Linked DNA regions of Homo sapiens: region 1 is linked to region 2. Evidence: fine-mapped expression QTL. Tissue or cell type: whole blood. Region 2 holds a variant in brackets; the other region holds the start of a gene. All regions are shown on one strand. Distances are between the middles of the regions.

Region 1 (8,181 bases), 36 kb before region 2:
GCTCTTCACTGCCATCCCAGGAGGATCAGAATTTGGTCTTCAGGGAGCTGGAGGGTTTCCTGATAAAAATGGCACACTGTCCTCACTCTTCAGTGTGGTACCCAGGCTCAGAAGGGATGCCAGAGACTTTTGCCCAAACCACCCAGGCTCTCCTGGATGTGTGGAGCTGGCAGCATCTGCTCCTCACCACCTCAGACCAGTCCTACCTTCCCTAGCTACTTCCCCATAGCTGCTTCCACTGCACGTTCTTCTGAACCCTGACGGACAGGGCACAAGCAACCCCATGTTCTCATATGCACATTTACCAGAACACCAAGCACCTGTGACCCCTTTCCCCACCCACCCACCTGCAAACCAGTACTGTCTTCTCCCCAGGGCTGTTCACTGGAGGGTGATGGAGCCAGGAAGTACTTATAAGCCTGGGGGTGTCAGTAAACACCTTGCTTCCTTTCCCTGGGGCTTGTAGACTGGGAGGAGGGATTCTGACAACATTTACTCACACTCACCGCCCCCTCCTCAGACTCTCCTGGAGGCTGCACAGGTAGAGGTGGGACCCTTTCTTCCATAACTCTAGCCTTCTACTCTTCCACATCCTGACACACTTAGGGGATTTCAGCATTCTTGTCAATCACTCTCATGGTGTCCTGGCTACAAGGATCCTTAACCCAGTGATCTCCATCCCTACCTTTCTGCCACACAATTGGCTTGTCTAGCTACTCCTTCAATCTCACTATGACTCTAACCTAGGCCATCACACCAAGACCTCAAATCCTGCAACTCTTTTCCAGTGGCTGATAAACTTTTTCTATAAAGGGCCAGACAGCTCTGCCACTGTAGCACAAAAACAGCCTCACACAATATGCAAAACTTTATTTACAATTCATTTACCATGAAGCTTTATTTATAAAAACAGGTAGTTTGTACCTGTGGGCCATAGTTTCTTGACTCCTGCTCTTTTCTGATGGTGACTTCCCTGTGTTTCTACAACTTCACTCCTTACTCTGGTGGAACCTGCTCCTCGCATGACCCCGGTGAAGCTGCCAGTAAGCCACCCTGATTCTTCCCCACTCTGACTTCACACACCTCCTCACCCCACCTGGATCTCATGGTCAGTTCCCTTCTCCACCCAAGGCCCACTGTCCCCCTTTTCTTCTCCAAAGCTTCCCAGTGGTACTGGAGAAGGACCTTGACTTGTGCTAACAGGGTCCATAAAAATTCCTTCTCTTGAACCTCATTTGGGTCTTCGCTGTGTGGTGGTCAATTGTGTTTAACAAACATGCCTTAGTTCACTGTGGATTGAGTACTCTTCTTTTAAAAAATTCTCCTCCCAGGGTTTGGTGACACAGCAAAGGTCTTTCACCTCTTTTTTCTTCTTTGTCCCTTTTTCCCACCCCTTATAATTTTTTAATAGCTACTGTATTAACGGATCCACCCTTTATATAATCAGTCTCCAAGGTTTTAAGGACCTCTTCTTCCTTTATAATTTATTTCCTAGGTTGCTTTAATCACTGCCCCAACCTAAACTAGCCCTCTGAAGCAAGAGCACTCAAATCTACTATGTCCAGCCACTACCTTGTGTGGGAGCTTAAGATCTGAATTTCCAACTATGTCGACAGTCTGTCCACTTAAATATCCTGCCATAACTCAAACAGCACATATTCTGAACCAAATTAATAGTTCCCTCAAACTCAGCTCCTTCTCCTGTAGTTCTTATTGCTAATGGCATCACTCTCCTCCTAGCCTATTAAGGCTAGAAACCTGCGTCATCTTTGCTGCCCGCCTCCTGGCCTCATCTCCTGGATCTCATCAGGTAGTTGCCAAGTCCCACCTTGTCTGCCACCTCTGTACTGTGTCTTAAATGTGTTTTCTTCCAGTTCCAGCCCCTCATTACCTCTTACTGGGCCATTGCAAAGGCCTATAATCTTTCTATCCCTCTACATGCCAATCCAGGTGGCACATCTCCCTCCACAGCCACCTATCACAACTCTGACCCTTTCCTTATAGAGCTCCTTAAATGCCACTTGCTTCAGGAGACTCCTGACTCCCACCTTCTTCAGCCCTTGGGGTTTCCTCTCCTTGAGCTTCTCCTACTCAGCACCTGTTAAACCATTTACTTTCCCTCGTATCAGAGCTACTGGATTTTTTTTTTTTTTATGGCACACACACATTGCAGTGTCTGAAAGGTAATTAACATTAGGTGTCCTATAAGTTATACTCAACTCTCCACTCTCAATATTCCCAACACAGTACTGATGAGGGGCTTCAGTTGATTCCATGGTGAGCTCTTGGGGGTCAAGGACTATGCTTCAATCATCTCAACCTCTCTAGCACTTGGCACAAAGCTGATTCTCAACAAACATTTGTTGAATTAATGACTGCATGAACAAGACGCCACTATGCAAGCAATCATTTCTTTCTTGTTCCTCTTGCTGCACCCTCACGCCCACCATATTGCTAGGGACAGAGGCAAATGTGTGTACAGAGTGAGTGCTGGCTCCCAGAGCTGAATTATGGGACTTAGGGGTTCTCCTATTAGCTCTTTGAGTGACCTTGGGAAAAAAAAATTGTGTTTCAAAGTGGCTAGAGTCAGTTAAAAGCTAAATGTTTTTTAAACTGCTACTCTTGGCCCAAATCTGGAAAATATTTTAATGTCTGTCTATAGAAGAATTAAATTATGAAACATTCATTCTATGGAATAGTACTCACACGGTTATTTTTTTTCTTGTGAGACGGAGTCTCGCTCTGTTGCCAAGCTGGAGTGCAGTGGCATGATCTCGGCTCACTGCAATCAGGCTGGAGTGCAGTGTGATCTCAGCTCACTGCAATCTCCGCCTCCCGGGTTCAAGTGATTCTCCTGCCTCAGCCTCCGGAGTAGCTGGGATTACAGGCGCACGCCACCACACCCAGCTAATTTTTGTATTTTTAGTAGAGATGGGGTTTCACCATGCTGGCCAGGATGGTGTCGATCTCCTGATCCGCCCTCCTCGGCCTCCCAAAGTGCTGGGATTACAGGCATGAGCTACCACGCCCGGCCAGTTATTTTATTTTTTTAAAATGTGTCATATCTATTTGTATTCACCTGGGGATAATTTAGGAATCATATAATGTTCAATAAAACAACAAAAAGTTGTAGAATAGTATGTACATTATAATTTTTTTCCCTAAACAAAAAGAGAAAATCCATGAATGTGTATGTGTGCGCACAATGGAATGAACACAGAGAAAAGAAAGGAGATGTAAGTTTGCTAAGGATATCTTAGGGCAGTAGGGTTAGAGGGAGAGGAGGAGATTATTAATCTTTCTTTTTGCCCCCCTTAAATCCCCTAAACACCAAGCCACCGTTGAGTACAGCCATTTGGAAAGCTACGGAATAGGAGAGCAAGAAAGTGAGCAAGCAACCCACAGTGATCCTTTCTAAATCTCTCAGCATCACCTCTATGCAAATTACATAACAACTCATTTAACATTCATTGCCTCCCAGATTTCACTTTAATCTGGTCTCACATATTTAGGATCAAGAGATAAGCACTACCCCCTTTGCCTTTACCACACAGGTTCCACAGTGCAATACACTGACACCTGTGCAGAAATGCTTTTCCTTCAAGTTAGGCGTCCTTAATCCTTTCAAAGGAGTGCTTAAAAAAAAAAAAATATATATATATCTTAACAAAATTGAGGTATATAATTTAGATACAGTAAAATTTATCCTTTTAAGTGTATAAATCTATGAATTTCGACAATCGCCACCACAATCAAGATATAGAACATTTCTATTTCCCTAAAAAGCTTTTTCATGCCACTCAACAATCAATTTCTTCCACGATACCCAGTCCCTGGCACCCACGGATCCACTTTCCATCCCTATAACTGTGGTTTTTTTTTTCCAGAATGTCATATAAATGGACTCATACAGTATGCAGCCTTTTGAGTCTGGCTTCTCGTGCTTAGCATAACGCACTTGCGAGTCACCCGTGTTGTTACTTGTAACAGTATTTCCTCTTCACTACTAAGCAGTATCCCATTATGTGGATGTATTTCAGTTTATCTGTTAACCTGCTGAAGGCCATTTGTGTTTTCCCAGTTTTTAGCTATAAAGTGGTTAACAAGCTTTCTCCTACAGCTTAAGTGCCATTTTTAACTCCCAGAAGGCCTTCAGGAGGTGGATAAGGTGAGCTGAGGATAGTGTGCGCTGCTCAAAGTCCGAACGTTGTTCAAGTGGGGCTAAAGCGGGGGTAGGGGGTTCCACAAGGGGCCCTAGCAGAAAGGGAGACGATGTGTCTGCCTTGACATGGGCTCAGGCCTTCCTACTCAGACGGGGGCGCATTTTCCCCCAAGCCCTCTTCACGCACTGCTCCATTCTGCAGAATTAATGAGCAGGATACAAATTCACAAATTCCTAAACCAGCAATGCTGCTTGGCAAGACTACACACACACGCACACACACACACACACACTCTCACAAGACGCACAAATTCCTAAACCAGCAATGCTGCTTGGCAAGACGACACACACCCACACACACACACTCACAAGACGCACAAATTCCTAAACCAGCAATGCTGCTTGGCAAGACGACACACACACACACACTCTAACACTCACAAGACGCACACGCTACGCACTGCAACACAAAGCCTGTGAGGTTGTAAACGAACCCAGACGGCGGCGAAGGTCCAAGGCCGGCCCGGCTTACCTGCCGCGGATTCATTGCGCCCGCGAGGCATTGCCCGGCCCGACCCGCCGGCGGCACGACCCTGGCCCGACCGCTGGGCCGCGCCAGCCCCTCGAGGCCCCCACGCCTCCGCTACTCCGCACTGGAAGTGGCCCCGGGGCGTCGGCACGGGAAACTCCGCGGGTCTGCGCGCCGGGCCCAAGATGGCTCCGGTTCAATTTCGCTTTCGTTTCCTCGGAAAGCCTTCCCCTCCGGAAAGTTTGGCCAAGAGGAGGGGCTTGAGCAAATCTTGCGCCACGCTTGGTTTCAGGCCGGTTACAAGTCGAACCCCTCCGCTGCATGAGAACTACGGAAGGTACTTTTTTTTTTTTTTTTGAGGCGGAGTCTCGCTCTTTTTGCCCAGGCTGGAGTGCAATGGCGCAATCTCGGCTCACTGCAACCTCTGCCCCCCGGGTTCAAGCGATTCTCCTGCCTCAGCCTACGGAGTAGCTGGGATTACAGGCGAGCGCCATCACTCCTGGCTTTTTTTTTTTTTTTTTTTTTGTATTTTTAGTAAGAACAGGGTTTCACCACGTTAGCCAGGGTGGTCTCGAACTCCCGGCTTCAAGAGATCCGCCCACCTCGGCCTCCCAAAGTGTTGGGATTACAGGCGTCAGCCCCCGCGCCCGTCCGGTACTGTTTAGGAAAACCGCCGTTTCAGTACTGAGCTCCTAATTCCCCGCACAGGCCGTAGGCAGGAATACACGAATAGAGCAAAAGGAAAACAAAGGCACACAAAACCTCAGGCCAGAAACAGCATGACGCCCGGTCCTCCCTCTCTCCGCGCCAGCGCGGTGGTGGCCGCGTCTCCAATGTGGAGGGGGGGGGGAGGGGATGGGCGGGAGCGCAGATCTCGTCAAACGACCAAGGTCCCCACCGTGGGACCTTGTTAATGCTCCTACTATGTTATAAACTTAAGCAAGCAGATGCCAGCCAGTAAAAAGTACCAAGAGTAGCAACAGCAGCAGTGAACAATTTAGGATCTAGGTCATAAAAACTACCCCACCAGGCAAATGGTTAAGTACTTTACATGTATTATCTCCCTTAATCTTCACAACAGCCCTCCAAGGTAGGCATTATTCCCACTTTGCAGGTGTAGAAACCGAGGCTTGACTAAGGCCACGCTGCTGCCAAATCCAGGTCTGAAGGCTTTAGTAAAGCTCAGTCTTCAGCGCTTCTCTACACTCATTCAAATTACACCATTACTTTCAAAAAGATAACTTTTGTTATCTAGAGGGACAAAAGTCAAATTTGCTTCATGGTCAGGCTTCTCTAACTGCTGGATTTTTGTTCAAGGTATCTGGGAAACGATTATTCTAGGGTTCAACACCATCCTCACCTGTGAGAATGTTCTTTCCCTGTGTTTAATCTTAATTTTACCCCCATGCTTATGAAATTACAAGGCAGTCCCTTTATAGCAGTATCTCCAGCTGATGCCCTTTCATGGTGTTAGTCACTCCAAATTAACATTCCCTTGCAGGCTGGGCTCTGTCTTCCTTCTGGGCCTTTGCACATTCTATTCGTTGGCCTAGCATGCACCTCCTCCACGGCTTCCCGTGAATCAACCTTTCAAATTTACAAGGGAGGCCTTCCCCACAGCAGGTAGGGGGAGAGGAGGGGGAGCAGGTGCTGTTTGTGGTTTCCTACTCCATGCTTCTCGAGTTACTGGGCGCCTACCCCTAATAGGGCACTTGCACACTGCGCTAAAAACGCCCCATTCGATCATTTAACAAAACTTTACTAAGCACCTAATTATGTGGCAGATACTGTGTTAAGCACCCAGGATATGACACAAATAAGAGCGCCATCCTTTAGCTAGTCTGCTAGGGAAGATGGATGCCTCAGTAATCACAATTATCATGTACTTCTTGTTCATATATCTGCCTCTAGAATTGTCAAGTCATCTCCTCGGGGGCAGGAAGCATGTTTTGTATCCTTATATTCGCCTTCAGAGGGCTGGTTAGTTGAAAGAATAACAGACCCCTCAGTAGGTATAACAATGGGCAAAAACAATCGAAAGACAACTTCACAGGAGATAAAAAATATCAAACATATGAAAAGGTTCTCAACCCCATCACATCAGAGAAATGCACAGTATAGCTACAGTGAGCTACTGTCCATTCACCAGACAGACAGCATTAGCCATCTGATTAGACCAGGTGGCAGCAAGGATGCAGAGCAGCTCTTAGTCACTACAGGAAACCAGTTTACCATTATCTAGAAAGGTAATGGTAAACCCCAAGAAGTTCATGGTTGCATTATTTGTAATTAATAGCCCCCAAACTGGAAACAACCCAAATGTCCATCAAAAGTAAAATGGATAAATGGTGGCATATGCCCATGATGGAATACAATACAGCAACAAAAATGAAAGATCTACGCATGCAACAAGGTAGCTAATTATCTAAATATGATACTGAGTGGGAAAAGCCATATGTATACTATATGATCCCACTTACAGAAAGTCCCAAGCCAGGCAAAACCAAACTATAGTATGCTCTGCATAAAAGACAAAATGAGGCCGGGCGCAGTGGCTCATGCCTGTAATCCCAGCACTTTGGGAGGCCGAGGTGGGCGGATCACGAGGTCAGGGGATCGAGACCATCCTGGCCAACATAGTGAAACCCCATCTCTACTAAAAGTACAAAAAATTAGCTGGGCATGGTGGCGTGTGCCTGTAGTCCCAGCTACTGGGGAGGCTGACGTGGTAGAAACGCTTGAAGCAGGGAGTCGGAGGTTGCAGTGAGCCAAGATTGTGCCATTGCACTCCAGCCTGGAGACAGAGCAAGACACCGTCTCAAAAAAAAAAAAAAAGAAAAAAAAAAAAAAAAAGACAAAATTGTGGTTAATCACTTCTAGGGAGAAAGGTGGGAGTTTTGACTGGGAAGAAATCTTTTGGGTACCGGTGATGTTCTAGCTCTTGACTTGGGTAGTGGCTACATATGTTTGCTTTCCAATAATTTCATTATACATTTACGTTTTATTCATGTTTCTGTATATATATGCTGTATTTCACAAATTTAAAAGGTAAAAACAAACAAGAACCACAACAAACTCTTGCTGTTGCAATTCCAGTCCACTTCCCCATGTTTTTTTTCCTCCGTTTAAGTAACAGGAGTTATATCTTACCTCTGCTTTCTTGTCTTCAGGCAAGACAATCTGAAAGCCTTTACCCTTCTTCAGAAATGATCCAGAAAAGCTTTAATCACAACTACTGTGCGAGGGAAGCTGCACCGCTGCTCCCCCCACCCCTTTTAATCTAACATAGGACACAGTGGCAAAGCAGTGAACTTTCCTCAACAGAAGGTCAGTTTATGCCTTGAAAGAACAACAACTCCTATTGTCATTTAATCTTAGCAGCTCAAGTAACTGCAGACAGTCTTATTCATAAACGTTTCATCTCCTCCCCCTCAGTAATTGTTTTAACTCCCCCATGGTTGTGAGGTGATGATGTCTTTTTTTTTTTAAC
Region 2 (8,181 bases):
TTTAAAAAGTTAAGGATGCAGGCTGTAATCTAGAGTAACCATTGAAAGAACAGTAAGAGAAGATAAACTAATAAGCTAATAGATAAAGAAAACAGGATTTGAAAAATTCAAAAGAAGGCAAGAAGGAGAGAAAAAGAAATACAGAATACAGAAACAATAAGATAGATTTTAAGCCCAAATATGTCAGTAATTACATTAAACATAGATGGACTAAAAAGTCCAATTAAAGAGGAAGATTGTCACACTGGATTTAAAAAACACACACACAACTATATGTTGATTATAATAAACACACCTTAAATATAAGGACACAGAAAGTTTGAAAGCAAAAGAATGAAAAAAATATAGATACAACACAAATTCAAAACAAAAGAAAGCAGATGTAGCATAAAGACTTTAATGTATAAAGCAAGATAAGAAGTGAATAACCAGCCTGGCCAACATGGTAAAACCCCATCTCTAAGAATAAATACAAAAATTAACTGGGTGTGGTGGCACATGCCTGTAGTCTCAGCTACTAGGGAGGCTGAGGTGGGAGGATCACTTGAGCCCAGGAGGTGGAAGTTCCAATGAGCTGAGATCACACGGTTGCACTCCAGCCTAGGCAACAGACTGAGAGCCTGTCTCAAAACAATAAAATAAAATAAAATGGAATAAACAGAAATGTTTCATAATAATAATGGGGTCAGCTCACCAAGAAAATACAACAATATAAAATTTGTATGTACTTAATAACAAGACATCAGAATATAGAAAGCAAAAAAAATAAAAAAGTCATAACTAAAATAAGAAATAGAGAAATCCTTAATCAGAGTAGTAGAGTAGATTTCAATATACCTCTCTTGTTAACTAGAAAACTATCAGACAAAAAAATCAGTAGAGATATAAATGATTTGAATGATGCAATAAATATTACTGAAATGTTACATATAGAACATTGCAACAATTGTTGTTGAATATACATTCTTTTCAAGTACACATGGAACATTTACCAAAATTGACTATATGTTGGATCATAAAGCAACTCAATAAATTTAAAATGATTAAAATCAAACAGAGCATGTTCTCTGGCCACACTTAAATTAATTTAGAAATCAATAATAAAAAAGGTAACTAGAATATCCCTGAATGTTTGGAAATTAGCAACATACTTCTAAATACCTAATGGATTAAATAAATCACAATATACAGGAAAAGATATTTTGGACTAAATAATGTTAAGAATAGCTAAGCTTGCAAGATGCAACAAAAACTGCCATTAGAGGAAAATTTATAGCCTTAAAATTGAAAATGTGTCAATTGAACCATAGAATATATATAGAAATAATGACATAGTTCAAAAAAGAAAGCCTGAAAATAGTGATGTAAGTATCCATCTCAAGAAGTTAGAAACACACACACACACACACACACTCACACACACAGAGTAAATTAAACACAGAAAGTAGAAAGAAAGGAAATGATAAAGATAGGAGTAGACGTACTGTGAGTTAAATAAAAAATGAAAATAAAAAATAAAGATAAGAGTAGAAACAAATAAAATAGAAAACAGGTTTATAACAGAGACTCAATAAAGGCACAAATTGGTTTTTGGAAACGACTGATAGAAAAACTGATAAAACTGATCTAGAATAAAAGAGAGGAGGCACAAATAAAGTCAGAACCAGAAAGGGGACATAGCTATAGATCCTGTTTAAGAGTAGTAAGAATTATAGATATTTGGGTTTTATTCCCAGAGTTACATATTGAATTGGCGTGGGATACAGCCTGGGCATAGAGGTTTTCAAAAGGACCTTGGAAATCTAATGTGCAGCTGATTTTGAGAACATCGGCTGTAGGGTGATCTGGTTGGGCCATTGTTGGAGAACGCCTGATGTTGGTATATTTGGTTTTTTTCTTTTCTCTTAAGCTGTTCAAATTCCCCTGTGAAAAACCTTCCATTTTCCTGCCTAAAGGATATAACCCTGGTTGATAACTCTCTGATAACTGAGCAGAGGAGGAGGATTGAGGGGTCTTAACATTTAACAAATAAGCATTCCCTTTATCCTGTTTTCAGAACAATAACCTTAATCTCAACTGTATCTGATCCCAAACTAGAGGCCCTAAGTCTTACTTTCTTCATAGACTAGGCCTAAGTCTTTCTCTGGAGCAGGAGAGGAGCCAACACAAGGCCTCACAGTATGGAGAAAGGGGATGGATACTCATGCTGTTTCTTTTTTGTTTAAAAAAAATCATGTTCGATTCAAGGGGTGGGTACATGTCAGGTTTGTTACATTGTCATATTGCACAATGCAAGGTTTGTGCTTCTATTGATCTGTCTATTGATAGCGAACATAGTATCCAATAGGAAGTTTTTCAGCCCTTGCCCCTCCTGCCTACCTCCCCACTTTTGGAGTTCCCAATGTCTATTGTTCCCATCTTTAAATCCATGTGTACCCAATGTTTAGCTTTCACTTATAAGTGAGAACATTCAATATTTGATTTTCTGTTTTTGTGTTAATTCACTTAGGATAATAGCTTACCGTTGCATTCATGTTGCTGCAAGGACATGATTTTGTTCTTTTTTATTGCTGCATAGTATTCCATGGTGTATATATACCACATTTTTGTTATCTAGTTCCCTGTTGATGGGCACCTAGGTTGATTCCATGACTTTGCTATTGTTTGCAATTATTATTATAGCACACCCTTCAGTTTAGTTAGGCCTCCTCCCCCTCCTCACCCTCTTCCTCCTCCTTTTTGTTCTTCATAGACTATTTTTTAGAGAAGTTTTTGATTCACAGCAAAACTGAGCAAAAGGCACAGAGATTTCCTGTGGGAAACCCCATTCCCCCATACATGCATAGCCTACCCCCTATTAACATCCCCCACCAGAGTAACACATTGGCTATAATTAATGAACCTACACTGACACATCATTATCACCCAAAGTCCATAGTTTACATCAGGGGTCACTTTGATGTTGTACATTCTGTGGGTTTGGACAGATGTATAATGACATAATTACCATTACGTTATCAAACAAGGTCATTTCACTGCCCTAAAAATCCTTTGTGCTCCATGGATTTATCTCTCCCTCACTAATAACCTCCAGCAACCACTGACCTTTTTACCATCTCCATAGTTTTGCCTTTTCCAGAATGTTATAGATTTGGAATTATACAGAATGTAGACTTTTCAGATTGGCTTCTTTCACTTAGTAATATGCATTTAAGTTGCCTTCATGTCTTTTCATGGCTTTATAACTTCTTTCTTTTTAGTGTTGAATAATATTCCCTTGTCTGTATGTATCACAGCTTATTTATCCATTTATTTATCTACTGATAGACATGTCCACTTATTTATCTACTGAAAGATATATTAGTTGCTTCCAAATATTGGCAATTATGAATAAAGCTGCTATAAACATCTGTGTGCAGGAGTCTTAGTCTGTTTTCTGCTGCTCCAATAGACTACTACAGACTGGGTAACTTACAAACAATATAAGTTTATTTGGCTCATGGTCCTGGAGGCTGGAAGGTTCCAGAACATGGCATCAGCATCTGATGAGGGTTTTAGGGCTGCATCATCTCATGGTGGAAGATGAAAGGGCAGGAAGGCACACACAACAGTGAGAGAGAAAGGTGGCCAAACTCATTCTTTTTATTTTATTTTTTATTTTCATTTTTTTAGAGATAGGGTTTTGCTCTGTCACCCAGGCTGGAGTGTAGTGGCATAATCATAGCTCACTATAACCTTAACACCTGGGCTTAGGTGATCTTCCTGCCTCAGCTTCCTGAGTACTCAGCTGGGACTAAAGGCACATGCCACCACTTTTGCCAATTTTTTTTTCTTTAATTTTTTGTAGAGACAGGGTTATATTGCCCAGGCTGGTCTTGAGCTCCTGGCCTCAAGCAATTCCTCACTTCTTGGCCTCCCAAAGTGCTGAGTTTACAGCCATGAGCCACTGCATCTGGCCAAAATCATTCTTTTATCAGGAACCCACTCCCATGATAACTAACCCATTCCTTAGATAATGGTGTCCATAAGAATCACCTCTTAAAGGTCTCACCTCTCAACACTGCTGCATTGGGGAGGAAATTTCCATCACATGAACTTTGGGACATATTTATACCATAGGAACAGATTTTTGTGTGAACGTAAGATTTCAGTTCATTTGGGTAAACACCAAAGAGTGTGAGTGCTGGATTGTGTGTTGAAAATGTTTGGTTTTGCAAGAAACCACTACACTGTTTCCAAAGTGACTATACTATTTTGCATTCCTGCCTGCAATGGATGCAAGTTCCTGTTGCTCCACATCCTTGTCAGTATTTGGTATTGTCAGCGTTCTTGATTTTGGCCGTTCTAATAGAGGTATAGTGGTATCTTGTTTTAATTTGCATTTCCCTGATGATACGATGAGCAGCATCTTTTCATATGCTTATTTGCCATTTGTATATCTTCTTTGGTGAGGTGTCTGTTGAGATCGTTGGCCCCTTTTATATTTCTTTATTTTTAATTGACATATAATAATTGTACATATTGGCTGGGCACAGTGGCTCACGCCTGTAATCCCAGCACTTTGGGAGGCCGAGACGGGCGGGTCACGAGGTCAGGAGCTTGAGACCATCCTGGCTAACATGGTGAAACCCCATCTCTACTAAAAATACAAAAAAATTAGCCAGGTGTGGTGGTGGGTACCTGTAGTCCCAGCTACTCCGGAGGCTGAGGCAGGAGAATGGTGTGAACCTGGGAGGTGGAGCTTTGAGCCGAGATCACACAACTGCACTCCAGCCTGGGCAACAGAATGAGACTCTGTCT[CAA/C]AAAAAAAAAAAAAAAATAATAAAAATTGTACATATTAATGAGGTACATGTGATATTTCAATACATGTTTACAATGTGTAATGATCAAATAAGGGTCCAGTTTTTAGCTGGGTTGTTTACTTTTTTATTACTTAATTTTAATAGTTCTTTGTATATTTTGGATAACAGTCCTTCATCAGATATGTCTTTTGTAAATATTTTCTCCTAGTGTGGTTTCTGTCTTTATTCTCTTGACAGTGTCTTTCACAGAGCAGAAGTTTTTAATTTCAACAAAAGTCCAGCTTATTAATTCTTTCTTTCAAGGATTGTGCCTTTGATGTTGTATTTTTTTTTTTTTTGAGACAGATTCTCGCTCTGTCACCCAGACTAGAGTGCAGTGGCACGATCTCGGCTCACTGCAACCTCTGCCTCCCGGGTTCAAGTGATTCTTCTGCCTCAGCCTCCCGAGTAGCTGGGACTACAGACACACGCCACCACACCCAGCTAATTTTTGTATTTTTAGTAGAGATGGAGTTTCACCATATTGGCCAGGCTGGTCTCAAACTCCTGACCTCGTGATCCACCCACCTTGGCCTCCCAAAGTGCTGGGATTACAAGCGTAATTACAGGCCTGGCCTGATGTATCTTAAAAGCCATTGCCAAACCCTAGGTCATCTAGATGTTCTCCTATGTTATCATCTAGGAGTATTACAGTTTTAAAAGTTTTTATAGCTCTGCCTTTTGTATTTAGGTTTACGGTCCATTTTGAGTTAATTTTTGTTAAGTCTGTGTCTAGATTTTGTGTGTGTGTATGGATGTCCACATATTCCAGTATCATTTGTTGAAAAGGCTATCTTTTCCCCATTACATTGCCTTTGCTTCTTTGTCAAAGATCAATTGACTATATTTACATGGGTCTATTTCTGGGTTTTCTATTCTGTTCCACTGCTGTATTTGCTTTTTTTTTTTTTTTTTTTTTTGCTGATATCACACTTCTTAATTAAAATATTATGGGCGCGGTGGCTCACTCCTATAATCCCAGCACTTTAGGAGGCCAAGGCGGGCAGATCACCTGAGGTCAGGAGTTTGAGACCAGCCTGGCCAACATGGTGAAACCTCATCTGTACTAAAAACACAAAAATTAGCTGGGCCTGGTGGTGTGCACCTGTAATCCCACCTACTTGGGAGGCTGAGGCAGGAGAATTGCTTGAATTGGGGAGGCGGAGGTTGCGATGAGCTGAGATGACGCCACTGCACTCCAGCCTGGGGGACATAGCAAGACTCCATCTCAAAAAAAAAAAAAAAGTATTATGGGAGGAAGTCTTGAAGTCTGGTAATATCAGTTACACAACTTTTTTCTTCTCTTTCAATATTGTGTTAGCTATTCTGGTTCTTTGGCCTCTCTGTAAAACTTAGGATCAGTTTGCCAATATCCACAAAATAACTTGTTGAGATTTTAATTGACATTTCATTGACTCTATAGATAAAAGTTGCTTTCATTTTTGAATGTTGGGCTTTTACTGAGCTACCTTTTTTTTTTTTTTTTTTTTTTTTTTTTTTTTTTTTGAGACGGAGTCTCGCTCTGTCGCCCAGGCCAGACTGTGGACTGCAGTGGCGCAATCTCGGCTCACTGCAAGCTCCGCTTCCCGGGTTCACGCCATTCTCCTGCCTCAGCCTCCCGAGTAGCTGGGACTACAGGCGCCCGCCACCGCGCCTGGCTAATTTTTTGTATTTTTAGTAGAGACGGGGTTTCACCTTGTTAGCCAGGATGGTCTCGATCTCCTGACCTCATGATCCACCCGCCTCGGCCTCCCAAAGTGCTGGGATTACAGGCGTGAGCCACCGCTCCTGGCCTTTTTTTTTTTTTTTTTTTTGAGACAGAGTCTCACTTTGTCACCCAGGCTGGAGTGCTGTGGCACAATCTCCGGGGGCCGCCACCTCCTGGGCTCAAGCGATTTCCCACCTCAGCCCTCCAAATAGCTGGGACTACAGGCATATGCCACTACACCTGGCTATTTTTAATTTTTTGTATTTTTGGTAGAGACAGGGTTTCACCATGTTGCCCAGGCTTGTCTCAAACACCTGAGCTCAAGCGATCCTCCTGCCTTAGCCTCCCAAAATGCCATGATTGCAGGCGTGAGCCACCACACCTGGTCTCAGATACCTAATTTAATTATCTTATTAGTCATCGTAATTTTTAATGGATTCTTTTGGTGTTTCTGTGTAGACAATATTGTCCAGAAGTAGTGATTATTTTGTCCCTTCCAATTTCGCTTTTGCTCTCTTTCGTTCTTACGTCATTGTCTGCGATCAACAGTAAAACTTAGCAGTGATTTCCTTGTCTTGTTCACTCCATTTATTTAGCAGAATTTATTGAACCCCCATTATGTATTAGGCATAGTTTTACCTGCTGAGGATACAGCTGTGAAAAAAATAGTCAGAGTACCTGCCCTGATGAAAATTGTACTTTGGTTTGGAGAAGAAAAAGACAGAAAAAATAAATGAGCATATAATTTCAGGTAGTATAATAAAGAAAAATCAAGCAGAGGAAGGAGAAGGACAGTTGTATTCCTTCATTTTGTGTTGCTATAAAGGAACTTTAACCTAAGGTTGAGTAATTTATCAAGAAAAGAAGTTTATTTGGCTCATGGTTCTGCAGGCTATATAAGAAGCATACCATCAGCATCAGCTTCTGGCGAAGGCTTCGGGAAGCTTCCACTCATAGCAGAAGGTAAAGGGGCAGCAGGCCTGTCACATGGTGAGACAGGGAGCAAGAGCGAGAGGAGGAGGTGCCACGCTCTTTTAAACACCCAGCTTTCACGAGAACTAAGAGAGTGAGAACTCAGTCATCACTGAGGGGATGGACCCCAGCCATTCATGAAGGATCTGCCCCCATGGCCCAAACACCTCCCACCAGGCCCTGACTTCAACTTTGGGGATCCAATTTTGACATGAGATTTGAAGGGGACAAATATCCAAACTATATCAACATTATATCAATTTTCTTCTTTAAAAATAGCTTTATGGAGATATGATTTACACTTCATAAAATTTATCAGTTTAAAGTACATAATTCAATATTTACATAGTTGTGCAACCATCACTCATAATCTAGACTCAGAAAATTTTCATCAACCCTCAAAGAAACCCCATACCCTTAGAGATCATTCTCTGTTCTCATCAAACCAACATTTCCCCAGTCCTCAGCAACCACTAATACAGTTTTTGTCACTATAGATTTGCCTATTCTGAATGTTTCAGATAAATAAAATTACACAAGATGAGGTTTTTGTTTGTTTGTTTTTTGTTTGTTTTTTGAGATGGAGTCTTGCTCTTTTGCCTAGGCTGGAGTGCAGTGGCGCAATCTTAGCTCACTGCAACCTCCACCTCCCAGGTTCAA

The links. PIP is the estimated chance that this variant, and not a neighbour inherited with it, causes the effect.
Region 1: ADAR starts here. The variant in region 2 is fine-mapped to the expression of ADAR in whole blood (INTERVAL, PIP above 0.99).

Annotation. Positions count from the first base shown.
Region 1 is chr1:154,603,298-154,611,478 of GRCh38, forward strand. It overlaps ADAR (adenosine deaminase RNA specific), which reads right to left and starts at 4,889. Exons shown (of 15, transcript NM_001111.5): 1 at 4,695-4,889. The coding sequence starts at 4,709. RefSeq lists a silencer at 4,663-4,772 and enhancers at 4,773-5,162, 5,832-6,825, 6,909-6,988.
Region 2 is chr1:154,639,175-154,647,355 of GRCh38, forward strand. No RefSeq gene overlaps it. Among named protein-coding and RNA genes, the nearest start is that of ADAR, 35 kb to the left of the region's middle. The variant CAA/C (reference allele first, on the strand shown) is at 4,801.